Regions from separate parts of the Homo sapiens genome. Here regions 1 and 3 are each linked to region 2. Evidence: fine-mapped expression QTL. A gene starts in region 2. Each other region holds a variant in brackets. All regions are shown on one strand. Distances are between the middles of the regions.

Region 1 (7,650 bases), 74 kb after region 2:
AATCAAGGGCTAAATAAAGTGGAAAGCAGCATCCTTGAAAATCATCGCTCTCAGGACGGGGTCTGCCTGGAATAGCACTGAATGTGTTTAGTAGTGCCTTTGGCTTGGGGGCTTTGGAGAAAGCTGCTTGAGCCCTTCCCATGCTCATAAATTAGGTAAGGAGCAGTGAGGAAGTGTCTACAGCAACCTCAGCCAATGTGATGTGCCTCTACAGCTGTATGAAGTAGATTCTCTGATTTTATCTTGAAATCCACAACTTCCACAAAAAAGAAAAATCTTTTACCATTTCTCATTAAAAAAGTAATATAAGTTTATTGTAGGGGGAAATAATCAAATGTAATCTCATTACCCAGATATAATCACTGTTAACTTCTTCATTCGAATTTTCCCTAGGTCCATGTATCTATATATCTATGGTTCATAAAAATGAGATTACACCAAAAAATATCTTTTGTTATCTATATAGTTCCAGCTTAATAAATATACAACTGTATTATTATTTTTGTCTGAATAGTATTTTCATTGATATATCACAATATATTTACTCCAATTCCCTATTGCATATAGATTATTTCTAATTTTTCTATTAATAATACTAAGGGAGCTTTTAAGTCAATACATCTGAATCTTGAATAAAATTCTTGTTCCTTCTCTTTGGATGGGTATTCAGACTCTTAATTTTACAAATGAAGAAATAAAGTCCCAGAAGGTAACAGAGATAGAACTAGGCACGATTTTCTATTCTTCTTTCCTTCCTTTCTTTGTGAGAGTTAACGATTATTTAAAAGTATTCATAATTTTCTGATAATAAAAGTAAGACATGGCATTATGACACTGGATATTCAAAAACCACGATGTCCTTTTACTTGAAGATTTTAAAAGGAAATGATTACAATAAATACCCAGAGTCAACAATTATCAAGTTTCTGTCATATTTGCTTCATCTATCTCTTTCCTTTGAAAGCGAATCCTAGGCCGGGTGCAGTGGCTAACGCCTGTAATCCTAGCACTTTGGGAGGTCGAGGTGGGCGGATCACTTGAGGTCAGGAGTTAGAAACCAGCTTGGCCATCATGGTGAAACCCCAACTCTACTAAAAATACAAAAAATTAGCTGGGCATGGCGGTGCACGCCTGTATTCCCAGCTACTTGGGAGGCTGAGGCGGGAGAATTGTTTGAACTCAGGAGGCAGAGGTTGCAGTGAGCTGAGATCATGCCACCGCACTCCAGCCTGGGCAACAGAGTGAGAGACTGTCTCAAAAAAAAAAAAAAAGAAAAAAGAAAGCAAATCCTAGGTACCATTTCATTTTATCCCTACATGTTCAGATATGCTGTTAGGGCTCAAAAGTGATACCCCAAAGACTGTGCTTTGACATGCTGAGAGGCCTTAGAAGCTGCCTCAGAATCAAGGTTCCCCTAACCTTGTCTTGTCTCCACCCCCTCCCAAGCATAGGGAGAGACTCTCTCTGGAATTTCCTTGTCTAACCAAGAAAGCTTTTTTCCAAAAGAAATGCAATTTTTCTTAGGATCCCCTCCCTAGGGGGTCTCAGCAAATAACCAGGAAAGATCACTCACCAGAGAAGAGAAGATGTTGGAAGTCATCACCATGCCCAGACAGACTTTTCTTCTATTCTTCTGAAGGAAGCTTCAAGAGATTACCTGGGAAACTTAATCTGCAAAATAAGATGACCTTTGTTCCTGTGCAGTTCTGCCCATCACCTTCCCATAATGTCTCCCTCCCACCTCCCAGGTTCATACATCTCTTCCCATAAAGAGAGTTTTTTTGTTGTTGTTTGTTTGTTTGTTTGTTTTTGAGATAGAGTCTTGCTCCGTTGCCCAAGCTGAAGTGCAGTGGCACGATCGGCTGACTGCAAGCTCCGCCTCCTGGGTTCATGCCATTCTCCTGCCTCAGCCTCCCGAGTAGCTGGGACTACAGGCACCCGCTACCACGCCCGGCTAATTTTTTGTATTTTTAGTAGAGATGGGGTTTCACCGTGTCAGCCAGGATGGTCTTGATCTCCTGACCTCGTGATCTGCCCGCCTCGGCCTCCCAAAGTGCTGGGATTACTGGCATGAGCCACCATGCCTAGCCAAAGAGAGTATTTAAGCAACCATCTAGCCCCTCTTAGAATTCACATTTTGTATGAATCCCATGCACATATATGCATCTTAATAAAATTTGTATGCCTTTTTTCCCAATAATCTGCCTTTTGTCAGCTGAGTTTTAGCAAGCCTTCAGAAGACAAAGGGGAAGTTTTCCCTTTGCCCCTACAATGCCTATGTAAAAAAAAAAAAAATGGGCTTCTAAAAAAACACAATACCATATCACACCTAATAATTTAATAATTCCGTGACATCATCTAATATGCAGTTCAAAATGAAATTTCCATGACTATCTCAAAACATCTCTTTTTACATTGGGTTTGTTTGAATCAGGAACAAAACAAGGCCCACAGATTACATTTGGTTCTTAAGGCTCCTAAATCTATATCAATCCTCAGCAGTCTTTTGTAATTTCCCCCCATGCCTATGTTGTAGAAACCAGGTAGCCCTGTGGAAAGCTTCATATTCTGGATTTGCCCATTTATTCCCATGTTATTTAATTGTTTCCTCTATCACCTATATCTCCATCAGTGAAGGTAGCTCTAGAGCCTGGATTAGAGTCAAGTTGGACTCCTGTTAAGAGTATTTCACAGGTGGTGCTGTGCAGTCAGTATTGCATTAGGAGCTATCTAATGCCTAGTTGCCCACTTTTAGAGTATAGTGGGCCCAGTGCTATGCCACCCCAATGGGGGAGGGCAGGCTAGAGGGGTGGGAGGGCAATACCAAGACAAATGCAAGATACCCTCCCACCCACGATGGTTCCTCTTCCACCTCCAACTACACCCTCATGGGTGTAGAATCAGATTTTGCTTTGAGATGGGAGAGGTTTCCTCATTCAGCCCAATCCACAACACCACCATAGCTCCATCATGGGCAAACCGTTTTTATAGACTTGCTAATTAATGTCTGTGGACCGGCAGCATTAGCATAGCCTGCACCTGAAAGCTTGTTGGAAATGCAGAAACTCTTACCCTATAATTACCAAATTAAAAATTGGATTTGTTGGGGCTCAAAGAAATGACACTCCAAAATATGGCACTTTGACATGCTGAACTAGAGAAGCAGCCACAAGGCCTCTCTGCCCTCCTTCCCCACCCCCCAATTCTCTGTGTCTCCCAAAGCATAGGATGAGGCTGTTCTCCGAAGATCCCTGATCTATCTAGAAACTGGGTCCACCAAAGAGAAACACAATTGCCTTTGATCCTCTCCCCTAAAATATCGCTAAGCAGAAAAGATTAAAACTCATATCTCAGAGGAAGAGATGATAATTAAACACCACACTTGGAGCCCAGACACTGTTCTCTGGTCCTGTTTGATTCCCAAAGAGAATTATTTGCTAGCCATGAACTGAACATTGGGCCCATTCATTACCCCTAAAAATCATTTACTATATAAATTGCCACATTTCCCTGCTCTTTCCTCCCCTGTGAAGAAAAGTATATAAGCATCTAGACCTCACTGGGTTTTTAGGTAATCATCCTCCTGGGATTCCCTTGTGCTTATGTGTGTTAAATAAATGTATATGCCTTTTTCTCCTATTAATCTTCCTATTCATTCTCTGTTCACTTTCAGCAAAGCTTCAGAGGGTGAAGAAGAGCTTTCCCTTGGCTCCTACACGTTCTAACAAGATTCTCCCTGTGATTAGCATGCCCTTTAAAATTTGAGAACCCCTGGTCCTCAGGACCCCGGAGAAGTTAGGTCTGGATTAGAGGAATAAGGGCAGTAGTATTAGTTCCCTGCTTCTGTATAACAAATTACCCTAAAACTTAATAGCTTAACAAAGATACATTTATGGGCCGGGTGTGGTGGCTCAAGCCTGTAATGTCAGCACTTTGGGAGGCAAGGGCAGGCGGATCACTTGAGCCCAGGAGTTTGAGACCAGCTTGGCCAACATGGTGAAACCCCATCTCTACTAAAAATACAAAAATTAGCCGGGCATGGTGGCAGGCACCTGTAATCCCAGCTACCACTCTGGAGGCTGAGGTAGGAGAATCGCTTGAACGCGGGAGGTGGAGATTGCGGTGAGCCAAGATGGCGCCACGGCACTCCAGCCTGGGCAACAGAGCGAGACTCTGTCTCAAAAAAAAAAAAAAGATACATTTATGATCTCACATATTTTCAGAGTCAGAAAGCAGGAGTGGCTTGGCTGGTGAGTTCTGGCTCATGGGACTCTTACAAGGTTGCTGTTGGGTTGTCGAGCTATTGGCCAGAGGAACCACTTCCAAGCTTA[C/T]TCATGTTGTTGGCAGAATGCTTCAGTTTCTTGCCACAAGGTCCGATCCCTAGGACTGCTTATGATATGAGGGTCCCCAAAGATGAGTGGCTAGATAGAGAGAGAGAGAGGAAGGGAGAGAGAAGTCACAGTGTTTTTTTAATAGCCTAATCTCAGAAGTGACATGCCATCACTTCTAACACGTTCTATTGGTCGTACACACTAACCTAGCACTCTATGGGAGGGGAGTATGCGGGGGTGTGAACGCCAAGAGGCAGGGATGCTTGGGGACCATTTCATAGGCTCACTACCACTGCAGTAACCATAACCGGGGCTTCGCCTTGTGAAGAGGATGGGAAACTTCCTCCTGGAAACAGAGTAGGTCTCACACTCAGTCCTCTACTCCAGGAGAAACAGGGTTCACCTGCCTGGCTCTTATCTCTCTGTCCTCCTGAGTCTATAGACTCTCATTTCTGTTGCAATTGCATGATTTGTTCTAACGCTCTCAATTCCCACAAGCACTTTTTTTTTTTAAAGTTACAGATTTTCGCTTGAGTAACTTCTTTAGATAATCTATGCTGCTTGCTATAGGAAGAACTTAGTGGCTGACAGTAAGAAATCACTTAATATAAACGTATGTAAAGCCAGGCGTGGTGGCTCATGCCTGTGATCCCAACACTTTAAGAGGCTGAGGGGGGCGGATCACTTGAGGTGAGGAGTTTAGGACTACCCTGGCTAACATGGTGAAACCCCATCTCTACTAAAAATACAAATTTTAGCAGGGTGTGGTGGCGTGCACCTGTAGTCCCACCTACTCAGGAGGCTGAGGCAGGAGAATTGCTTGAACCCAGGAGGTGCAGGTGGCAGTGAGCCAAGATTGTGTCAATGCATTCCAGCCTGGGTGACAGAGTGAGACTCCATCTTAAGAAACAAAATAAAACAAAGATACATAAAAATATAAGGGCACATAGTTTCAAAGGTTGGTAAACAAGTCATTCAGTGTGTGTCATTGTGGCATCTGGGCTACAAAGGACAGCTGGGAGGTAAAATTACTGGGCAGAGCAGAGGATGGTTTAGATACAGGATAGTGGAGAAGCTTGTTTTTTTTTCTGAGGAATGATGATTAGAATTCACCCAGGAGTATACTCTGGCCTAACTGCAGATATTAAGGCGATAGAATTGTCCAATCTGGTGAGTGATGAACTTAGAGTTGGTGATTAGTAGCCGTGAGGGTTGGGGCAGTGTGATGCTGTAGTCCTACCTGCCAAATGGAGCTGATAATACTCCAGGAAGATGTACTTTTATGTTTGTTTCACCAATAAGGAAATACAAAAACAAGTTCAGTTTTCCACAACATTCAGGTAATGGGCTTTGAGGAAAAAAAAGATGAAAGTGGCAGTTCAGTGTGGGAGCTGGGAGGGCTGTGGAAGTGGGTGGGGCTAAAACAGAGCCCTCCCTGGACTGGCTGCTCCTCAGGATCTGCTGTGAAATTTGCAAGAAAGTCCTATAGAGCCTGGTTAGGAGCTGTGGAACAGGGGAGGGAGCTCCAGAGAAAACGAAGCATAAAGCTTAAGGCCCAGACCTGAGAGAAAGGCTAAATGCCCAAGACAGGAAAAGAACCAAGCAGGTTTTAGAACAACAGAAAGATGAGAAAGCAAAGAGGGGATCTGGAGAAAGAACAGGCTCGTGAAGCCCAGATTAAAATTCTCTTCTCAGGAATTGACAGTTTCCAGCTTGCGGCAGTAGAATCAGCTTTGCAAAATAGAAAGGAAAAGATTCCCCCTGAAGAGTTGCAAACCATCTGATTCATGATTTATTGCCTTAGAAACGTCTGTATAAACACAAGGATTAGGTATTGTCTCCCCCAGCTTCCTGTCTTCAATTTCCTTCTTTTTCATCTGGATGTTTTGTTATGAACTCTTTATCTCTTAAGACAATGTCTTTAACATTCAATGGTTAGGGCAATTCCCAATTCAGTCTGTGATTCTTTCGCCTGTGCATGATTGTAAGATGTTCCTGCTACTTCCTTCTTACGCTAATAGTAGTAACATAAGACATCAAAACTCAAAGCAAAGACACTGACCCACAAAAAGTGAAGCGTGGAAATAATTGTTGTTCAGGGAGGCCCTAAAACAAGTCAGGTTTGAATACCTCAGGTCCTTTCTGTGCTCTGGGGGAGAGGGATTCTAAAGCCCAATTGCCTCACACTGACCTATGCTTTGATGCCCTCAGCATCTGGCCCTACCTCTCCACCTTCAACTCATACCATGTTCCCCCAAGCTCCAGTCCACTGGCCCCTTTTTGAGGTTCCAGGTGTCAGTGGAAGATGCCAAGTTGTGCTCTCCCTCTGCCCCAGATCCTCACATAGCTGGTCCTTCATCTTTCTCACCTCCATTCAGATGTTCCAAGTCTCAAAATATCAAGCTGACCCATTTTCTTGGCATTTAAATCCCTTCCTGGTAACTGATTAGGCTTCCACCACTACTCAGCCACAACCGGTCTGGGTTGCAAAAATCAGTCACCTCAATGGCTGGGAGAAGTTAAAGACCCTTCCAATAGTGGCTTAGGCCCCTGAGGAAAGCTGTCAGGAAATTTTAAAAGAAAACTCAAAGGGCATTTTGATGAAAGAAGAAATAAGGAATTAAATTTCAGCTTATGAACAACAGTTGTAGAAAGAGGAGAGTTAGGAAGGTGAAGACTAACATTCATTTAGGTCCAGCCTCATTCCCATGTTTTACCCATGTTATGACATGGAAACTTCTCAACAAGCCTACAGGGAAAGGTTAGTATCCTCATTTCGTAGATAAGGAAACCAAGGCTCTGGTTGAGCAAATTTCCCAGGATCCTGCAGCAAATACATGGAAAAGCCAGGTTCAAGCTGAAGCCCAGCTGACTCTAAGCCCATCTGTGTGTGTGCTGTTCCCTGTCCACAGGCCTAGACTCTGCTCTGAGGACGTGGGGGTTTGGGTGGGGCATGTGCTGGCATTACACAGGTATTGAAAGACACATGGGCAAGAATACTTCCCATGCCCTCACCATCTATATGGATTTCACGTATCCTTTAGGAGCACCCGAGTCAGTACTGCCTCCTTTGTTTTGAAACAAAGGGTCTAGTTCACTGTCATTTTTACACAATGGAGACCTTTATAAATTACAGCTTTTTGGTCCTCCACTTGCAAGGGAAACAAGGACCATAACAGGGCCATCAATAATCTCCCCAACGCAGAGGACCTGAACATATAAGCTGCAAAAAGATGTCTGAAATTTTATAATTTGTTTGCTTCCTGAATAATCTTTTACTTGGTAGAATCAATTGTAAGTGCCACTGTGCTTGTGGCTT
Region 2 (7,650 bases):
ATATAACAGATTTATCAGAATTTATGGCTTAAAAAATTGCAGCACAGGGAGGGAAATGATGGTGTTTATTCTAGTGACCATTTCTGTCCATTAAAACTGAAATTCTTTTTTTTTAATCTTTTTAAAAACTGTGTTTTTTTTTTTGAGACAGAATCTCGCTCTGTTGCCCAGGCTGGAGTGCAGTGGTATGATCTTGGTTCACTGCAGCCTCTGCCTCCTGAGTTCAAGTAATTCTCCTGCCTCAGCTTCCCTAGTAGCTGGGATTACAGGTTTCCGCTACCACACCTGGCTAATTTTTGTATTTTTAGTAGAGACGGGGTTTCACCATGTTGGCCAGGCTGGTCTTGAACTCCTGACCTCAAGTGATCCACCTACCTCGCTCTCCCAAAGTGCTGGCATTAGAGGCATAGGCCACGGTGCCCAGCCTAAAAACTTTATGTTTGTTTGTTTATTTTATTTTATTTATTTATGTATTTTTCTGAGAGAGAATCTTGCTCTGTCTCCCAGGCTGGAGTGCAGTGGTGCCATCTTGGCTCACTGCAACCTCGGCCTCCTGGGTTCAAGCGATTCTCCTGCCTTATCCTCCCAAGTAGCTGGGATTACAGGCGCCCACCACCACGCCTGGCTAATTTTTGTATTTTTGGTAAAGACTGGGTTTCACCATGTTGGCCAGGCTGCTCTAGAATTCCTGACCTCAAGTGATCCGCCCACCTCGGCCTCCCAAAGTGCTGGGATTACAGGTGTGAGCCACTGCGCCCAGCCCTAAAAACTTTATTATGGAGGATTTTATACCCATACAGAATTAGGATTGTATAGGGAAACTCTATGTCTCCATCACTCAGGCCCAATATCCATCAACCTTTGGTCAATTCTGCCCCATCCTCCTCCCCATCCCGTTTATTCTGAAGCAAATCTCAGGAATCATATTATTTCACTCGTAAATGTTTCAGTGTCTAAGACAAGAAATTTAAAAATCATACCTCAAAAAATTTCTTAATATCAGATATCCTGTCAGTGTTCAAATTTCTACTCATCTCAATTATCATAAGTGGTTTCTTTTTTTAAAAAATCAGAATCTAAATAAAGCTCAGACATTGCAATTGGTTGATGACTTTTAAATCTCTTAATTTATCTCCACCCTCACCACTTGCTACTTACTTGTTGAAGAAACCAGGTTGTTTGTAGATTTTCCCCATAGTCTGGATTTTGCTGATTGCATCCAGAACTGGAAAGTGTGAAAGCATATTAGAGGAAATGAAAAGGCTCTGCCGATCGAGAACTCTGGTTATACAACTGTTCACAAGCACTTAGCAGGAACAACGAGGAATGCTAAAATTCTTATCACTGTGCCCTCTTATGTGGTGCCTGCCTCATGGTGATCTTAATGTTCTCCTAAAGATAGGGAAGAACAGGACCCTAGACCACAGTCTTGTGCTTGGGAGCTACACTTGGACAGGAATCACCACCCAAAACTGGCAATGCAGACAGATTACATGTGTTTTCTTCCGCAGATTTGTTCTGATCTCCCCAGACATCCGTCATTCTATAATCCTACAGTTTGGACCTTCTTAGTTTTCACTTTCAGGTGGGAAAGACTAGTAATTAATTAATTAATTAATTAATGCTTTTATAGAGACAGGGTCTGGCTCTGTCACCTAGGCTGGAGAGTAGTGGTTGCAATCACAGCTCACTGCAGCCTCAAACTCCTGGGCTGAAGTGATACTCTCAACCCCAGCCTCCTGAGTAGCTGGAACCACAGGTGTGCACCACCATGCCCAGCTAATTTTTAAAAAAAAATTTGTAGAGATGGTGTCTCCCTATGTTGCCCAGGCTGTGTTGAACTCTTGGGCTCAAGTGATCCTCCCACCTCTGCCTCCCAAAGTGCTGGGATTACAGGCTTGAGGCACAGCACCCAGTCAAGAGGTTTTTGGGTTTTGTTTGTTTTTTGAGACGGAGTCTCACTCTTGCCCAGGCTGGAGTGCAGTGGAACAATCTTGGCTCACTGCAACCTCTGCCTCCCGGATTCAAACAATTCTCCTGCCTCAGCCTCCCGAGTAGCTGGGATTACAGGCGCACACCACCATACCTGGCCAAGAGTAGTTATTTTGGAAAGAGAGACGTTTCAATCTTCAGAACATATCTTTGGCCGGGTGCGGTGGCTGGTGCCTGTAATCCCAGCACTCTGGGAAGCCAGGCTGGGAGGATCACTTGAGCCCAGGAGTTCAAGACTAGACTGGGCAAGCAACATGGTGAAACCCCATCTCTACAAAAAAATACAAGTATTAGCCAGGTTGTGGTGGCATACCCTGCAGTCCTAGCTATTTGGGAGGCTGAAGTGGGAGGATCACTTGAGCCTGGGAGGTTGAGGTTGCAGAGAGCTGTGATTGTGTCTCTGTACTCTACCCTAGGCAATGGAGCAAGACTCTGTCTCCAAAAAAAAAAAAAAAAAATTTATCTTTGAATTCTTTCTTTCAATATATTGTTATCTGTATTTCTGTACTGAGTGCTGTGCTTCTTGACCTGTCTCTGCCCTTTTCTGTGTATTTATTTATTTAATTGACAAGTAAAAATTGTATATATTATGGTATACAAATACAGCTTGATGTTTTAATTTATGTATACATTGTGGAATTATTAAGTCAAGCTATTTGACTTAATTGCCCCATATACTTGTCATTTTTTGGGGGTGATAAAGACACTTAACATCTACTGTCTTAGCAATTTTCGATACACGATATATTGTTATTAACTATAGATAGCATGCTGTACAATGGGAGCTCTTAAACTTATTCCTCCTGGGCCAGGCGCAGTGTCTCACGCCTATAATCCCAGCACATTGGGAGGCCAAGGTGGGCGGATCACTTGAGGTCAGGAATTCAAGACCAGCCTCACCAACATGGTGAAACCCCATCTCTACTGAAAATACAAAAATTAGCCAGGCTTAGTGGTGGGCGCTTGTAATCTCAGCTACTTGGGAGGCTGAGGCAGAAGCTTGAACCAGGGAGGTGGAGGTTGCAGTGAGCTGAGATGATGCCACTGCACTCCAGCCTGGGTGACAGAGCAAGACTCTGTCTCAAAAAAAAAAAAGAAAAAAAGAAATGCTGTGAGGAATTATTAGCCATGAAGCTTCAGCAGGCAGGTTAGGTAGCTTTTCCAGTCACATACTGGTGAAGTAAGGATTTGAACCCCAAGACTCTGGTGCCAGAGTAATTGCTCTTCACCATGAGGAGGCACCAGTGGGGGAGTGTTGGATCACAAGCAGTTTCTTTTTCTTTTTTTTTTGTTTTTTTGAGACGGAATCTGGCTCTGTCACCTAGTCTGGAGGGCAGCGGCGAGCTCAGCTCACTACAACCTCTGCCTCTCAGGTTCAAGCGTTCTCCTGCTTCAGCCTCACGAGTAGCTGGAATTACAGGCGCCCGCCACCATGCCTGGCTAATTTTTATATTTTTAGTAGAGATGGGGTTTCGCCACGTTGACCAGGCTGGTCTCAAACTCCTGACCGCAAGTGATCCACCCACCTCAGCCTCTCAAAGTGCTGGGATTAGAGGCATGAGCCACTGCACCCAGCGCAATTTCGTTAGAGACTTGGTGCCTTCCCATTTCTTTTACTCAGCAATATACCAGCTTTAGGTCCTAAATTAAACCTCTTCCTGCTTTCCCACCTGATGAAGAAACGTGCCTGCAGTGTGGTGAGTCTGGACCACGCAGACTCAGAACAGCACTACTCACAGCAGGGCCTCTTGCTCGCTCTAGCTGCTGGGAGGAAAACGGCTTGCTAATCTCCACGCCCAGAAATTCAGACAAGAGCATTCTCCTTATCTCATCTGCACAGGAAGCAGGTCTAAGGTAAAAGATTATTTTTGTGGAAGATTCTTGCTTTTCAGTCTAGTGGTTGAAGTGTGAGCCTGGCAGGCGTTGGATTAGAGAGGGCAACAAGAGTGGAGGTTGTGAGGTGGGGGGTTGCCTTGGGGCTTCCACTCTAAAATGTGGCCTTACCTTGGCCACAAAGGGGTCGGGGGGGTGGGGGAGAGAGAGAGAGAGAGAGAGAGGGAGAGAGCAGCCTGATCATAGCTCGGAGCGTAGAGGTTCTGGTAAGTTCCTTGCCCTAAAGAACACTTAGTTCATTCTGGCTCCTTTCCTGGTGACCATCCTGGCTTCCTGCTTGGCCTTCACCTCACCTTGAGAAATTCAAGTTTCATGTTCTTGTCCAGGCCAAAGACCCAGAAGAACCTTCAAGGTGAGGCTTGGCCCCTTAGATCCACGCCGTGATTTCGCTTCTTTTTCCTGAAGCCTGCACAGATGCCAGTGTAAGCCCACTCCCAGGAAGTCACAGCAGTGGTCTATGCTCCTCCTCTTCACACTGGCCAGTGCTGGGCATGCCTGGACAATCAGCCCTGGAATGGCTGCTCTCAGCCTACAGAAGAAGAGAGGGAAGAGGGATGGAGGGGCTGGGGAGAAGTTGGTGAGAGGACACAAAATTTGGGTTAGACAGAGAAATAAAGTTTTTTTTGTTTTTTGTTTTTTTCTGAGATGGAGTTTCACTCTGTCACCCAGGCTGGAGTGCAGTGGTGTGATCTCAGCTCACTGCAACCTCCACCTCCCACTTGGCTTCCCAAAGTGCTGCGATTACAGGCATGAGCCACCGCTCCCCAGCCTCCTCATGGGATTTTTGAGGATGACATAAAGGAATACATTTAAACTGCCTAGAAGGGTGCTTGGCCCAGAGTATGTGCTAATTAACGTTGGCTACTATTATTTTCCTTCAACCCAGTGCCGGTGCAGGTCTAGAGGAAAGCATGAGGTGATACAGGGGCACCCAGAGGCGGAGTGCTCCCAGGAGCTGAGGGGCATCGGAGGCTTCCCTGGAGGACTGGCACCTGAGCAGAGGAATGGGCAGCACAGTGGCAGTGCCACGTGTGCGGCACAGATGGTGCAGAGGGGATGGGTGGGCACACTGCGGGGAGTTTAGATTTAGCCAGGGGATGGCAGGGCCTGTCCAGGAGGTTAAGTGAGGAGCTCAGGTGTGCCTCCCAGCAGGCAGGGGAGGCTAATTTTGAAGAAGAGCAAAGTAGGTGCAGGAGGTGAGTTGGGATCTCATGCAGTAATTCAGGCCAGAAGTGACAAGGGCCTGAACTATGGCGCTAGGGTTGAGGAGGAAGGAACAGAGAGTGAGGAGATACAACCTGGCAACTGATTGCATGAGAGAGAGAGAGGGGCCAGGAATAGCATCATACTCAGGTTTCTGGCCATGCAGTTGGGTGAATGAGGGTATTGCTGTTGACTGGAGCAGCAAAAAAAGGGGATCCCCTCTGGGGTAGAGGAAGAAGGGAGCAGGGGATTGGAAAATGCCAAAATCAGTTTGCTGTGGTTTGGAATCTGAGACTCTGATGTGTTACCTAAGTGGAGATGTCCTGTGGTCAGTTTATTTATACTCTCCTGGGTCCTAGGTAGGATTTAAGGTGACATATGAAGATAACACAAAGTAGAGTAAGATATTATAAATTAAGTAGGAGAGAAAGCAGACAGAAAAGAACGAGATGTAAAGTAGAGGAAGGAATGAGGTTAAATATAAAGTACACAGCAGAAAGCAGAAGTCACAAGCTGGCCAGCATTCGCTGAATTTCCTGTTTGAGTTGTCCTGCAGTCTTATGTTTGTCTGTTGGGTTTTGGTGGGTTTTGTTTGTTTGTCTTGAGTTGCAGTCTTAAAATCCAGGAATTCTTAAAAATTAAAATTTCTCACTTTTTCTTTTAAAAAAAAAAAAAGTGAAGTTCTGGGAGCTCTGAGCCATATCCCATCTGGCAACGATGATCTGGGTCTGAGAAGCAGTCTCGCCTTCTTGGGAGAGCACGGGCTCTCCAATTTCCCACTGGCCTCCACTCCACTTGGCTGTCTGGCACTGAAGCAGTGTCGGTCCTCTTATCAGCATGGACTATTTCTCTGAACTCACCCTTCTATCAAATGTAATAAAAAAAATTAGTCAAGATATTTTTTTTTTCTTAGTCTCAATTTTGCCTGTTTACACTAGCAGCCTGGCCGTGGAAGCAGGCTGATGCTCCCTGTTCACAACTGCTTTTCATTCTGCTTAGTGCCTCTGTTGTATCTGTTGTTAAATAGTTTGGGCTGGGTGTAATGGCTCACACCTGTAACCCCAGTACTTTGGGAAGCTGAGGTGGGTGGATTGCTTGAGGCCAAAGTTTGAGAATAGCCTGGCCAACATGGTGAAAACCCATCTCTACTAAAATACAAAAAAATAGCCAGGAATGGTGGTGCACACCTGTAATCCCAGCTACTCAGGAGGCTAAGGCACAAGAATTGCTTAAACCCAGGAGGCGGAGGTTGCAGTGAGCTGAGATCCCGCTACTGCACTGCACTCCAGCCTGGGTGACAGAGTGAGACTCTGTCTCAAAAAACAAACAAACAAACAAAAAACAGCAAAGTTTGAACATGACCCGGCTGTAGGTATTTGAGTTTGCAGCATGTGGTAAAATCAAGTATTCGGCCTAGGTGGCTCATGAACTTGATTCTAGGCTTTCTAGCAGCCAAAGAAAAAGAGGATACATTATCTGTCTTATCCTATCTTATCAGCTGGGCTATTCATAGTATCCATGGGATGACTGCTTAGGCAAGTCAGGACTCTTCTCAACACAAGAACCAGAGCAACATTTTTCCCCTGAGAGTCTTCATAGAGAGGGAATGAAAAGTTCAAACAACATTCATCCCAGAGTCGATTCAAGTCTAAGGCTGATGATTCTAGCAGCTTCAAGCAGCATTTCCCTTGAAGCACAGCTGCTTAAACAATTCTAGGAGGGGCCAATGTGATACAGTTCAGACACCTAATTTTCTACTGATCTGGCTATATTAATTTCAGAAACTTTAGAAAAATCTAGAGAAATGCCTGGACTCCCTCCAAATAATCCTCCATAGATGGTCTGAGGATGTGATGCCTGGAATTGCAGCAGTCATCTTGTGACTGTGCGGGGACAAGTCAGAGATGAGAGCTGGCACACAGAAGATAGGGAAGAAGAAAGATAGATCTTGGGCCCTTGATAGCATTGACAAAACACTGAAACAACCAACTTTTATAGTAAGAGATAGCAAATTACCTTATTAAGCTTGAACTACTTTTATTTGCTTATTCTATTACTTGCTAATATGGTTTGGATCTGTATCCCCACCAAATCTCATGTCAAATTGTAATCCCCAGGCCGGATGTGTTGGCTCCCATCTGTAATCCCAGCACTTTGGGAGGCTGAGGCAGGCAGATCATCTGAGGTCAGGAGTTCAAGATCAGCCTGGCCAACAAGGTGAAACCTTGTCTCTAGTAAAAACACAAAAAATTAGCCAGGTGTGATGGTGCACACCTGTAGTCCCAGCTACTGGGGAGGCTGAGGCAGGATAATTGCTTGAACCCAGGAGGCAGAGATTGCAGTCAGCTGAGATAGTGCCACTGCACTCCAGCCTGGGTGACAGTGCAAGACTCCATCTTAAAAAAAAAAAAAAAGAAATTGTAATCCCCAGGGTTGGAGTGGGGCTTGGTGGGAGGTGACTGGATTATGGAGGTGTAGTTCTCATGAATGGGTTAGCACCATCCCCTTGGTGCTGTTCTCATGATAGTGAGTAAGTGAGGTAGCGTGAGATCTGGTTGTTTG
Region 3 (7,650 bases), 65 kb after region 2:
AAGGATTACAGGATATTGTTAAACATTTAAAAGCTCAAGGCTTAGTAAGGAAATGCAACAGTCCCTGCAACACCCCAATTCTAGGAGTACAAAAACCGAACGGTCAGTGGAGACTAGTGGAAGATCTTAGACTCATCAAAAAGGCAGTAATTCCTCTATATCCAGTTGTACCCAACCCCTATAGCCTGCTCTCCCAAACACCAGAGGAAGCAGAATGGTTCACTGTTCTGGACCTCAAGGATGCCTTCTTCTGTATTCCCCTGCACTCTGACTCCCAGTTTCTCTTTGCCTTTGAGGATCCCACAGACCACACATCTCAACTTATGTGGACCGTCTTGCCCCAAGGGTTTAGGGATAGCCCTCACCTGTTTGGTCAGGCACTGGTCCAAGATCTAGGCCATTTCTCAAGTCCAGGCACTCTGGTCCTTCAGTATGTGGATAATTTACTTTTGGCTACCAGTTCTGAAGCCTCATGCCAGCAGACTACTCTAGATCTCTTGAACTTTCTAGCTAATCAAGGGTACAAGGTGCCTAGATCGAAGGCCCAGCTTTGCCTATAGCAGGTCAAATATCTAGGCCTGATCTTAGCCAGAGGTACCAGGGCCCTCAGCAAGGAACAAATACAGCCTATACTGGCTTATCCTCACCCTAAGACATTAAAACAGTTGCGGGGGTTCCTTGGAATCACCGGCTTTTGCTGACTATGGATCCCTGGATACAGAGGGATAGCCAGGCCCCTGTATACTTCTCTTTATACATCACAGAGAGTGCAGGGCTAGCTCTTGGAGTCCTTACTCAGACTCGTGGGACAACCCCACAACCAGTGGCATACCTAAGTAAGGAAATTGATGTAGTAGCAAAAGGCTGGCCTCACTGTTTAAGGGTAGTTGCGGCGTTGGCTTAGTGTCAGAGGCTATCAAAATAATACAAGGAAAGGATCTCACTGTTTGGACTACTCATGATGTAAATGGCATACTAGGTGCCAAAGGAAGTTTATGGGTATCAGACATCCGCCTACTTAGATACCAGGTGCTACTCCTTGAGGGACCGGTGCTTCAAATACATATGTGCATGGCCTCAACCCTGCCACTTTTCTCCCAGAGGATGGGGACCCAATCGAGGATGATCACCAACAAATTATAGTCCAGACTTATGCCACCCGAGATGATCTCTTAGAAGTCCCCTTAGCTAATCCTGACCTTAACCTATATACCAATGGAAGTTCATTTGTGGAGAGTGGGATATGAAGGGCAGGTTATGTCATAGTTAATGATGTAACCGTACTTGAAAGTAAGCCTCTTCCCCCAGGGACAAGGGCCCAGTTAGCAGAACTAGTGGTGCTTACCTGAGCCTTAGAACTGGGAAAGAGGAAAAAAAAATAAATGTGTATACGGATAGCAAATGTGCTTATCTAATCCTACATGCCCATGCTGTAATATGGGAAGAAAGAGAGTTACCTCTGGGGGGAACCCCCATAAAATACGACAAGGAAATCATGGAGTGATTGCACTCAGTGCAAATACTCAAGGAGGTGGCAGTCTTACACTGCCAAAGCCATCAAAAAGGGGAAGGAGAAGGGAGAACAGCAGCATAAGTGGCTGGCAGAGGCAAGGAAAGACCAGCAGAAAGAAAAGAGAGAAAGAGACAGAAAGAGAGAGAGAGAGGAAGAGACAGACACAAAGAAGGAGTCAGAGAGAGAGAGAGAGAGGAGAAGAGACAGAGACAAATAGGGAGTCAGAGAGACAGAGAGAGTCAGAGAGAGGAAGAGACAGACAAAAAGGGAGTCAGAAGGAGACAAAGAAGAAGTCAAAGAGAAGAAAGAGAGATGGAAGTAGTAAAGAAAAAACGTATACCCTATTCCTTTAAAAGCCAAGGTAACTTTAGAACCTATAATTGATAATTGAAGGTCTTCTCTGTAACCCTATAACACTCCAATACCACCTTGTTGTCAGTGTAAACAAGGGCGTAGCCTGAAAGCACTGAGGCCACTGACAACCCATAGCCTTCCTATCAAAAATCCTTAACCCAGCAGGTTTCCTAACAGGGGATCTAAATCTTAACTAATTACCATACAAAGGTCCGATCAGACCAAGGAGGAACTCCCTTCAGGACAGGAAGATAGATGTTTCCTCCCAGGCGATTAAGGGAAAAAGACACAATGGATATTCAGTAAGTGATAAAGAAACTCTTGTAAAATCAGAGTTAGGAAAATTGCCTAATGATATGTCTGCTCAAACCTGCGAGCTGTTTGCACTCAGACAAACAGAATCAGGAAGGAGCCATCTTATAGAATCAGGAAGGAATTATCTATACCAATTCTAAGTTAATATGGACTGAACAAGGTTTTATTAACAGCAAAGAAAAAATCCCAAACTTACAAGATTTTCAACTAAAGTTTGCTAAAAGTTAACAGTGTAACATGTATTATCCTACTACCACACACTCTCAAAGGATTTCTCAGACAGTTTGCAAGAGATAACAAAATCTATCCTTACTCTACAATCCCAAATAGACTCTTCGGCGGCAGTGACTCTCCAAAACCGCAGAGGCGTAGACCTCCTCACTGCTGAGAAAGGAGATCTCTGCACCGTCTTAGGGGAAGAGTGCTGTTTTTATACTAACCAGTTAGGGATAGTACGAGATGCTGCCCGGCATTTACAGGAAAAGGCTTCTGAAATCAGACAACACCTTTCAAGCTCTTATACCAACTTCTGGAGTTGGGCAACATGGCTTCTCCCCTTTCTAGGTCCCATGGCAGCCATCTTGCTGTTACTCACCTTTGGGCCCTATATTTTTAACCTTTTTGTCAAATTTGTTTCCTCTGGAATCAAGGCCATCAAGCCACAGATGGTCTTACAAGTGGAACACCAAATGAGTTCAACCAACAACTTCTACCGAGGACCCCTGGACTGACCTGCTGGCCCTTCCACTGGCCTAAAGAGTTCCCCTCTGGAGGACATTACAACTGCAGGGCTCCTTCTTTGCCCTTATCCAGCAGGAAGTAGCTAAAGCGGTCATCGGCCAAATTCCCAACAGCAGTTGGGGCATCCTGTTTAGAGGGGGGATTGAGAGGTGAAGCCGGCTGGGCTTCTGGGCTGGGTG[G/T]GGACTTGGAGAATTTTCTGTCTAGCTAAAGGATTGTAAATGCACCAATCAGAGCTCTGTGTCTAGCTAAAAGGTTTGTAAACACACCAATCAGCACTCTGTAAAATGGACCAATCAGCTCTCTGTAAAATGGACCAATCAGCAGGATGTGGGTGGGGCCAAATAAGGGAATAAAAGCTGGCCACCCAAGTCAGCAGTGGCAACCCGCTCAGGTCCCCTTCCATGCTGTGGAAGCTTTGTTCTTTCACTCTTCGCAATAAATCTTGCTGCTGCTCACTCTTTGGGTCCGCACTAACTTCATGAGTTGTCACACTTACCGTGAAGGTCTGCAGCTTCACTCCTGAAGCCACTGAGACCATGGACCCACCAGGAGGAAAAAGCAACTCCAGACGTGCCACCTTTAAGAGCTGTAACACTCACCGCGAAGGTCTGCAGCTTCACTCCTGAAGCCAGCGAGACCACAAACCCACTGGAAGGAACAAACAACTCCTGACGCACCACCTTTAAGAGCTGTAACCCTCACAGTGAAGGTCTGAAGCTTCACTCCTGAAGTCAGCGAGACCACGAACCCACCAGAAGGAAGAAACTCCGGATACATCTGAACATCTGAAGGAACAAACTCCGGACCATCTTTAAGAACTGTAACACTCACCGCAAGGGTCTGTGGCTTTGTTCTTGAAGTCAGCAAGACCAAGAATCCACTGGAAGGAATCAATTCCGGACACATAAGGCCGGGCACGGTGGCTCACGCCTGCAATCCCAGCACTTTGGGAGGTCGAGGCAGGTGGATCACGAGGTTAGGAGATCAAGACCATCCTGGCTAACACAGTGAAACCCCGTCTCTACTGAAAATACAAAAACATTAGCCGAGCATGGTGGCAGTCACCTGTAGTCCCAGCTACTCGGGAGGCTGAGGCAGGAGAATGCGTAAACCTGGGAGGCGGAGCTTGCAGTGAGCTGAGATTGTGCCACTGTACTCCAGCCTGGGTGACAGAGTGAGACTCCATCTCAAAAAAAAAAAAAAAAATGCTGGGCGTGATGGCTCACACCTGTAATCCCAGCACTTTGGGAGGCCGAGGCGGGCAGACCACCAGGTCAGGAGATCAAGACCATCCTGGCCAACATGGTGAAACCCCCTCTCCACTAAAAAAAATACAAAAAAAATTAGCCAGGCATGGGGGTGAGCGTCTGTAGTCCTGGCTACTCCGGAGGCTAAGGCAGGAGAATGGCGTGAACCCGGGAGGTGGAGCTTGCAATGAGCCGAGATCACACCACTGCACTCCAGCCTGGGCAACAGAGCGAGACTCCGTCTCAAAGAAAATAAATAAATAAAAAATAAAAATAAATAAATAAATAAAAAAGATAAAGTGGTAGGCTTAAGCCCAAACATATCAATAGTTACATTAAATGTAAATGGTTTAACTATAAAAATTAAAATACAGTAACTAGCATAATGGATTAAAAACATGCCCTAATTATATGTTCTCTACAAGAAACTCACATCAAATACAATAACGTATGTTGAAAGTAAAAGGACAAAAAATTACACAAGCATTAATTTAAAATGTTATGTTAACATTAGATAAGTGGACTTCAGAGCAAACAAAATTACCTAACCCTAGCACTTTCGGAGGCCAAGGCAGGCAGATCATGAGGTTAGGATCAAGACCAGTCAGGCCAACATGGTGAAACCTCGTCTCTACTAAAAATACAAAAATTAGCTGGGCGTGGAGGTACACACTTGTAATCCCAGCTACCTGGGAGGCTGAGGCAGGAGAATCGCTTGAACCCAGGAGGTGGAGGTTGCAGTGAGCCGAGATTGTGCCACTGCACTCCAGCCTGGGAGACAGAGTGAGACTCCATCTCAAAAAAAAAAAAAAAAAAATTACCAGAGATGGTGAAGTACATTACTAATAATAAAAGTATAAATCTACCACAAAGGCATAGCAATCCTAATTATATATGTACCAAATAACAGAACTACAAAATATGTAAAGCAAAAACTGATAGTATTGAAAAGAGAAACAGACAAATCCACAATTACAATTGAAGACTGCAACATCCTTCTCTCAACAATTGATAGAAAAGCTAGACAGAAAATCAGCAAGGACATAGAAGAAATAACATGACCATCAATTAACAGGATTGAACTGACTTTTGTGAAACACTCAACAACAGGCCACACATTATTTTCATGTGCCCACAGTACATATACCAAGACAGACCATGTCCTAGGCCAAAAAAAAAAAAAAAAACCTTGAAAAATTAATACCCATTGAAATCCTAAGAGTGTGTTTTCTGACTACAGTGGAAACAAACTAGAAACCAATAACAGAAAGATAACATGAAAATTTTTAAACACTTGCAAACTAAACACACTTGTAAATAATACTTGGGTCAAAAAGAGGGTCTTAAGGAAAATTAAAAACACATTCAACTAAATAAAAATGTAAAGACGATATATCAAAATTTGTAAGATACTGCTAAAGAAGTCTTGAGAGGCAAAGTTATAGCATGAAATCCCTGCATTAGAAAAGAGGATATTTCAAGGCTGGGAGCAGTGGCTCACATCTTTAATCCCAATACTTTGTGAGGCCAAGGCAGGTGGATCATGTGAGGTTAGGAGTTCGAGACCAGCCTGGCCAACATAGTTAAACCCCATCTCTACTAAAAATACAAAAAGGAGCTGGATATGGTGGCAGGTGACTGCAGTCCCAGCTACTTGGGAGGCTGAGGCAGGAGAATGGCTTGAACCCAGGAGGCGGAGGTTGCAGTGAGCTGAGATTGCACCACTGCCCTCCAGCCTAGGTGACAGAGTGAGACTGTCTCAAAAAAAAAAAAAAAAAAAAAGGATATTTCAAAAAGTTGTATGAAAAGAAGAAAAAAGGAAGGTCTCAAGTCTGTATTTCTCATAACTACATGTGAATCTATAATTGTTTCAAAATAAGTTTATAATTATGTATTAACATACATATTTCAATCATTTAATAGAGCTTCAAAACATAAAATGTGAGATTTCCAGTTTGACTTTTTTGTAGCATGCTTCCATATACTATTCATAGATAGTCACAATAATTCTGAATGACAGGCCTTGTTGGTATTACTGACATTGCTAGGCTGCCTAGGTGTGAGGTGGTACTTACACAGTTTCATGATCACACACAAGTTTAAGAATGTCAGAAAAGAGACTGAAGTAGCCATTCAGCTATATGGTTTTCCAGAGGGAAAGCTTGGGTCAAAAATCAGAAATTGGCCTGGCACAGTGGTTCACACCTCTAATCCCAGCACTTTTGGGAAGTGGTTGGATCACTTGAGGCCAGGGGTTCGAGACCAGCCTGGCCAACATGGCGAAACCCCATCTCTATTGAAAACACAAAAATTAGCTGGATGTAGTGGCACATGCCTGTAATCCCAGCTACAAGGGAGGCTGAGGCACAAGAATCACTTGAACCCAGAAAGTGGAGGTTGCAGTAAACCGAGATAACACCACTGTACTCCAGCCTGGGTGACCGAGCAAGACTGTCTCAAAAAAAAAAAAAAAAATCAGAAATTGAATACCAAGGTCAAAATTGGTATTGAACCTCAATGCCCAATATTTTTATGTCAAAGTGCCAGTTTCCTGTAGGTGGACGTCTAGTTGGTTTCTTGCTTTTTGCTCTTACAAATAGTTCTACAATGACAATCTTTAAATATATATCTGTGTAGTCTTTAGGGTATCTATCTGTAGGTTAATTCCTACAATTGGACTTGTGGTCAAAGGTATACGTATTTAAAATTTTGATTGATAACGTCAATTTTCTATCTAAAAACCTTATACCAATTTGTACCTCCATACCTCTATGCACGTGTTGTTTTTCCACACATTTACTAACATTAGATATTATCCAACTTTATTTTTTGTCGTTAGAATAGGGTTTTTACTTTGTTTTTGAGACAGAATCTGGCTCTGTCACCCAGGCTTGAGTGCAGTGGTACAATCTCAGCTCGCTGCAACTTCTGCCTCCCGGGCTCAAGTGATCCTCCCACCTCAGCCTTCTGAGTAGCTGAGACTACAGGTGCGTGCCACTATGCCTGGCTAACATTTGCATTATTTGTAGAGACAGGGTTTTGCCATGTTGTTCATGCTGGTCTCAAACTCCTGAGCTCAAGCAGTCCTCCCGTCTTGGCCTCCCAAAGTGCTGGGATTACAGGAGTGAGCTACTGTGCCCAGTAGAATAAGGGTTTTAATTTGCTTTTGAAAAAATAGACTTTAGAGTAGTTTTAGGTTCATGTAAAGTTTAGTGGATACACAGAGTGCTCCCATGTTATACCTGCCTCCAGATGTGCACCGACTTCCCCATTATCAACATCTCCCACCACAGTGGTATATTTGTTACAATAGAACCTACGTTGACACATCATTATTACCCAGTGTCTGTAGTTTACACTAGGTTTCATTCTTAGTGTTGTACATTCTATGGGTTTTGACAAATGCATAGTGACACGTATCCACTGTTACAGTATGATACACAATACCTTCACTGCCCTAAAAATCCTCTGTACTCTATC

What was found.
Region 1: its variant is fine-mapped to the expression of S100Z in whole blood (TOPMed, PIP above 0.99).
Region 3: its variant is fine-mapped to the expression of S100Z in whole blood (TOPMed, PIP 0.90).

Annotation. Positions count from the first base shown.
Region 1 is chr5:76,920,733-76,928,382 of GRCh38, forward strand. It overlaps S100Z (S100 calcium binding protein Z), which reads left to right. Exons shown (of 5, transcript NM_130772.4): 5 at 1-918. Among named protein-coding and RNA genes, the nearest start is that of CRHBP, 28 kb to the right of the region's middle. RefSeq lists a silencer at 4,943-5,116. The variant C/T (reference allele first, on the strand shown) is at 4,332.
Region 2 is chr5:76,846,310-76,853,959 of GRCh38, forward strand. It overlaps S100Z (S100 calcium binding protein Z), which reads left to right and starts at 3,705. Exons shown (of 5, transcript NM_130772.4): 1 at 3,705-3,846.
Region 3 is chr5:76,911,193-76,918,842 of GRCh38, forward strand. The region is part of intron 4 of S100Z (S100 calcium binding protein Z); the gene reads left to right. Among named protein-coding and RNA genes, the nearest start is that of CRHBP, 38 kb to the right of the region's middle. The variant G/T (reference allele first, on the strand shown) is at 3,103.